Linked DNA regions of Homo sapiens: region 1 is linked to region 2. The links come from fine-mapping of genetic effects on gene expression. A gene starts in region 2. The other region holds a variant in brackets. All regions are shown on one strand. Distances are between the middles of the regions. Region 1 overlaps LOC124909438 (a long non-coding RNA gene). Region 2 holds the start of CEP70 (centrosomal protein 70).

What was found. PIP is the estimated chance that this variant, and not a neighbour inherited with it, causes the effect.
Region 1: its variant is the best candidate, but not a certain one, in a credible set for the expression of CEP70 in adrenal gland (GTEx, PIP 0.63).

What each region holds. Positions count from the first base shown.
Region 1 is chr3:138,333,966-138,336,880 of GRCh38, reverse strand. The region is part of intron 1 of LOC124909438 (a long non-coding RNA gene); the gene reads right to left. Among named protein-coding and RNA genes, the nearest start is that of NME9, 5.6 kb to the right of the region's middle. The variant G/A (reference allele first, on the strand shown) is at 1,319.
Region 2 is chr3:138,593,016-138,595,930 of GRCh38, reverse strand. CEP70 (centrosomal protein 70) reads left to right here and starts at 1,671. Exons shown (of 18, transcript NM_024491.4): 1 at 1,671-1,733. RefSeq lists an enhancer at 1,407-1,466.

The DNA of each region.
Region 1 (2,915 bases), 260 kb after region 2:
CAAAAAACATCCTGGAAGCTCAGACTGCAAGCATAGATATGCATATGTAAATGCAGGTGGCTAAGAGCCAGGTCCACCCAATATTGTGGTTCTCACTCCCTTTTCCTTGCCACCACATGTGCGGGTGTCACAGCACCATCCAGGTAAAACCAAGTGTCATGGTGACCCCCAGGTAGAAGCTGCATTTGCATAATAAAAGACTATGGCAGAAGAGTCAGTCTTTTCGTGAGCTCTGTAAAATGTCATACCTGGTCAAACCAATCCCCTAGGCCCTATGTAAATCAATTACTGCCTCCTCAATCCTCTTTACAAAACTGATCGCATTCCACCCCAAACCAAAGACCCCCTCTTGGGTGACCCGCTTTCTCAGTATGAGGAAGTTCTCTTTCTCCTCTTCTTTGTCTATTAAACTTTCCACTCCTAAACCCACTTCTCATGAGTGTCGGTGTCCTGAACTCTTTCTTGGCGTGAGACAAAGAACCACAGGTAAATCCTGAGACAACGGAGCTGTTTCACCAGCACTTTGGGAGGCCAAGGTGGGAGGATTGCTTGAGCCCAGGAGTTTGAGACTAGCCTGGACAACACAGCAAGACCCTGTCTCTACAAAAAATTTAAAAATTAGCTGGGAATGGTGTCATTTGCCTGTAGTCTCAGCTACTTGGGAGGCTGAGGTGAAAGGATTGCTTGAGTCCTGGAGTTTGAGGCTCAGTGAGCAATGATGATTGGGCCACTGCACTCCAGCCTGGGTGACAGAGTGAGACCTCAAAAAAAAAAAAAAAAAAAGCAGCAGCAGCTTAGGTAAGAGCCATTCCCTGCCACATGAACAATGTGGCCTCTCAACAGGAGATAGTCACAATGACATTCTGCCACCCATAGCCTGGGGCCAGCTTCCTGAGCATCTCTCAGTAACCGAGCCCCAGTTTGTAAAACAATGGAAAAATGATCTTCATTTGTGGTCACATGTTTTCATGAGTTTTAGTACTTGAAATATTGTAATACCAAGTCAAAGAAAAAAATTGCCTGGATGCTGAATTTGAAATGCAGGGCTTGCTTGCTCTAATTTAGCCCAATTTTCTGAAATCCAGTAGCATCATCCAGTAGCATCACGTCAAATGTCTTGACAAACAAGACAGTTAGAAAACACTTTTAAAATCCCTGATGGCTAGAATTTTAAAGTGTTATTTTTACATTAAAACAAATACGGATGTGGTATGTTGTATTCCATAAAATGCACACAAATCTTTGAGTTAAATATTAGTGATGTTTAGAGATCTCTAAATGCTTAAGGCCTTTTAGCATTAAGCCCTCAAATCTCCAG[G/A]GCAGCCATTCAGGAAACTTTGGGTGAAACACTGGAGGAGTGTGGTCCTCGATAATGAGGTCTTTGTAGCTTGACTGAAATCTAGCTCTGCCTCAAAAGTTTCAAGTGTATGGGCAAGGAGTTCTAATGGGAGGTTGGAAGAGCATGCTCTCTAGGAGGCTCAACAATCAAGGGCAAAGTTCATTACCTCTAGGGAGGTGTCAAGAACTGTAAATCATCTGAGATTTTACCCTCCTTGCAAGCTTACAAGTTATTCTTCCATAATCATGGATGCTGAAAGAACATATAAGTCGCTCCTGGGTCAGAGATGAAGGATAGTTTATTATTCAAAGCAATAGCAATAACCAAAGTATTAGCATTTTTGCATAGGTTTCCTGAACTGATTCCCATAGGACAATGCAGAGAGGGCCAGGTGACACCTGCACATGCAGCAGGTTGTGTTATAGGAGAAGAATCCTAGCTTCAAGAAACCAAAGCTTTTACACTGAAGAGTTAAGTATGCTTTCTACAGAAGGAGACATTATCTCTAACTTCCAAGGCTGTAAACAAACCTTTCCTTTGCTTTAGAAGGAGATACTACCTCTATCTTTCAAGGTTGTTCACTATATAAACATTCCTGGAAAGGCTGTTGGGAATAAAGCAGTCAGTGCCTCTGCTTGAAAAATATGCAGATGCATGAGAGACCCATGGAGAAACATCGGTCAACAGGAGGGACCTATGGTCAGCTTCCTCTACAACATGTAGAAGTCTCCTTGTCATCTCCTCTGACTTCTCAGTAAGCATGAATGGTGGGCAGCATAGGGCTCATTCGTTCAGGTCATGATGGAAACCTGAGGTTCATTAAAAAAGATTCACTAGGAAGTAGCTGGGACAACCTGCCCTACAGGGACTCACAATACAGATGAGCAGTTTGATTGTAACCCCCAATGACTACTACGACACGAAGAAAATGCAACACAGTCCAAGGCAGGTTGTTAGGCTCAGACTAGCTGCTTCCATTTTATGGCTCACTATCTTGTGTTTTCAAAGTTACCCTCACAATCAACAAAGAAACTACCAGCACTAATAAGTGAGTTTAGCAAGATCTCAGAATACAAAGTCAATATACAAAAAATCAGTTGTATTTCTATGTACTGGCAGCACAAAATTGGCAATAAATTTTGAAAGTCAATTTCATTAATAATAGCATAATGAATACAAATGACTTGCAAGATTGGTTTAACAACTATAAAACATTGCTGAAGTTAAAGAATAAATGGAACACACATCCTATTTATGGACTGGAGGACTCCGCATTATTAAGATGTCAATTCTTCCCAAGTCAATCTTTAGGTTTAATGCAATTTAATCAAATTTTCAAGAGGATTTTTAAAGACAGACATATTAACAGATTGACTCTAGGATTTGTATGAAAGTAAAAGAACTTAAAATAGACAAATAATTTTGAAAAAGAAAAACAAGGTTGGATGACTTAGATTACCTGATTTTAAGACTTACTATACAACTAGTAATCAAGTACTGGTATAAGGATGGTCAACTAGATCAGCGGAATAGACTAGAGAATCCTGAAGGAAACTCACACTTACATGGCCAGTTG
Region 2 (2,915 bases):
CATTCACCACATAAAAAATTCAGTTAGAAAATAGAGAGGAATCAGCCTTCTTGTGCTTTGAAGACTGTGAAAGATACTGGTGATCATCCATCTAGCATCCATTTTCCTCTTCTCCTTTACAGGTCTCCAGTTTTATTCAAATAGCCATGTCTCCACCTTGCAACTCATGTGACTCAAAGAGCACTGACACCATTGCCAATTCCAATTGTCATAGCTCCTTTTCACTTCTGGAACCCAGGCTTAAGCTGTCTGTACATTTCCCAGGCAGTTACTGGTAAAGAGGAAGAGTGTGTGCCTGTGTGAACTTATTGGCTCAAAAAACCAGAAGGAAAGGTTTTAGATGAAAAAGAAAGTATGTGGTCCTGATTTCTCCAAGTAGACATCTGGAAAATCACGTTAGTATGAATTTGAAGTCTACCCTTTTTTTTTTTTACAACAAAGCAGAGACTAATAGCAACTGGGTCCTTGTTAACTTGCTTAGCCACTGAATTAATCAAAGTCTCCCTTGCCTCTGAGCTTTCTGTTATGCGAGATAAGCAACTTCTTTATTTTTTAGGAAGACAGTTTAACTCAGATTCTATATCACGTGCATCCAAAATAATAATAACTGACTCAAAGATGTTTGGCCTCTACAATTAGGGCAGCCATTCTCAGAAGAGTATGCAAGGGCACCCTATTATCTTGGAAAAGGGAAGCACTGAGACTATTTGCATTTTGAGAACTGAAAATGCAATCTGCTAACCGTCGTTAGAGTGAATATCCAGGTATGGAAAGCACAGTGGGTAGGCGTAGGTTGGGGTAGGGACATGTTTGCATGGGGCAAACACAGAGATCAAACCTAAGTGTAGTCCCAGCTGCCTGGAAGAAGGCTAAGAAGGGTCTGAAAGTATTGAGCTCCAAGAGCCCTTGGATCTCCTGATGAGAGACCCTTGGCTGATGCCCTAGATGGGACATCCCTGTTGGCTACTGTGGGACCTGCATCATTTGACTGCAACACAGTCTGTTGCAACATTTGACTGTAACACAGACCTACATCATTTGACTGATTTGAAAAGACAAGTTGTCAACAGCGACACCATGTGGCTATAAGATACAATGACAATGGTGGACAGCTACAGCCTCAGGTAGGGCCTGACGCTTCGTCGAGATGTGGAAAATGCTGAATGGGAAGATGAACTGTCGTCAACAAATATTTATTGGGGTCCTCCAAATGTCAGCTGCTACAGTGGTCATTCAGGTCTGGAACATCGAGAACATGCTGACCCGTACCCCAGCAAGGGCTCGTAGTCGCGGCGGGGTAGGGGGCGAGAGAGAGGGCAGTCTCTGGTGGCCAGGTAACCCAGGCTTCACTTTCACCCACGGCCACAAGTATTTCTGACGTCTTCCGGGCAAATAAGCCTCCATGTAAGTGACAGGGCACCCAAGGAGTGCGTTGGAAGCGCCAGCGTGCCCGAGACCAGCACATCGCACCGACGCCTTCGTTTGCGGTAAGCCCCGCCCCCCGTAGTGAGCCAACCGGAGGGAGCGGGGCGGACCCAGCTTCCCGGAGAGGCTGGAGAGAATCGTTTGGGGGCATTCGCAGGCCAAAGAGGGGCTGGCCCTCGACGCGCTCGGGCTCGATTGGCCGCCCTCCCCCGGCGGTGGTAACGGTCGCGGAGGCGGGGCCTGACGTAGCTGATCCCAGCCTAACCTGGCCCGGCTGGCTGCTGGTGGGAGGCCGGCGACTGAGTAAGGTGAGTGGCTCTCGGGGCTCTCAGAGGCGTCGGCGTGAGCCCCTTCCCGGAGTACCCCGGACTTGACCTCACCTGGGCCTAAAAGTGGTCAGACTGACCCTTGTCGGGGAGGAGCCATCTGGGACAGGGTCGCGCCAATTAAAAATCCCTGCGTAAGGGTTTGGGGATCGGACAAAACTGCCTCCAGTCCCAGCTCCCCAGGCTTTGTGTTCTTTGGCTTCTCCTTTAATGTCTCAGCGCCTCCGATTCTTTATTTGTATACTAAAGCTGGTAATTCTTGCCTTACAAGGTGGTTGTGAGGGTTAAATGAGGCAGTAAGAGTAAAGCTTAGAATCACGTCGGGCACAGACTCGATTTAAGCTGTAGGTAATTACTCCATCCCCCAAAATCGACCCGGGCTGAAGCGCTAGTTTTGTGTCAAACAACCGCGAAGGTTGTTTGGGGAGTGAGGACTCGGAGCAGAAGGGGGCGGTTAGGCGAATAGCACAGGTGAGTATCTCTTTCTCCAGTTTATTAACCTCATTCCGGATTCAGGAGACCTCTGACTTTATACAGGGCCTAATAGGAGTTTTTCAAGGTGAAAAATGCCAGAAGGCTAAGTCACCTGTAACAGAGAGACCAATCAGAGTTTCCTTTTTTACTGCCACTTTGTTTTTCAATCAATGATATTAAACAGGCAGGGCGCAGTGGCTTACGCCTGTAATCTCAGCACTTTGGGAGGCCGAGGTGGGCGGATCCCCTGAGGTCAGGAGTTCGAGACCACCCTGGCCAACATGATGAAACCACGTCTCTACTAAAAATACAAAAATTAGCTGGGCATGGTGGTGTGCGCCTGTAATCCCAGCTACTCGGGCGGGTGAGGCAGCAGAATCGCTTGAACTCGGGAGGCGGAGGTTGCTGTGAGCCGAGATCGCGCCACTGCACTCCAGCCTGGGTGACGGAGCGAGACTCTGTCTCAAAAATATATGTATAATATATTAAACTCTGTGCAGGCATTACCCATATTGGTTTCAAGCCTCTGCATGAGTTTTGTACTTTAAATATTGCCAAGTAGACTCTGGCCTCCCCTGCCCCGCCTTTTGGGGAAGAGGTGGCTGACTTGGAGTTTTCCCTACAGCTTTTGCTTCAAAGCAAGGTTCTGCCCCTTCATGTCACCTCTCCTGAGACAGAATGATTTGGTTG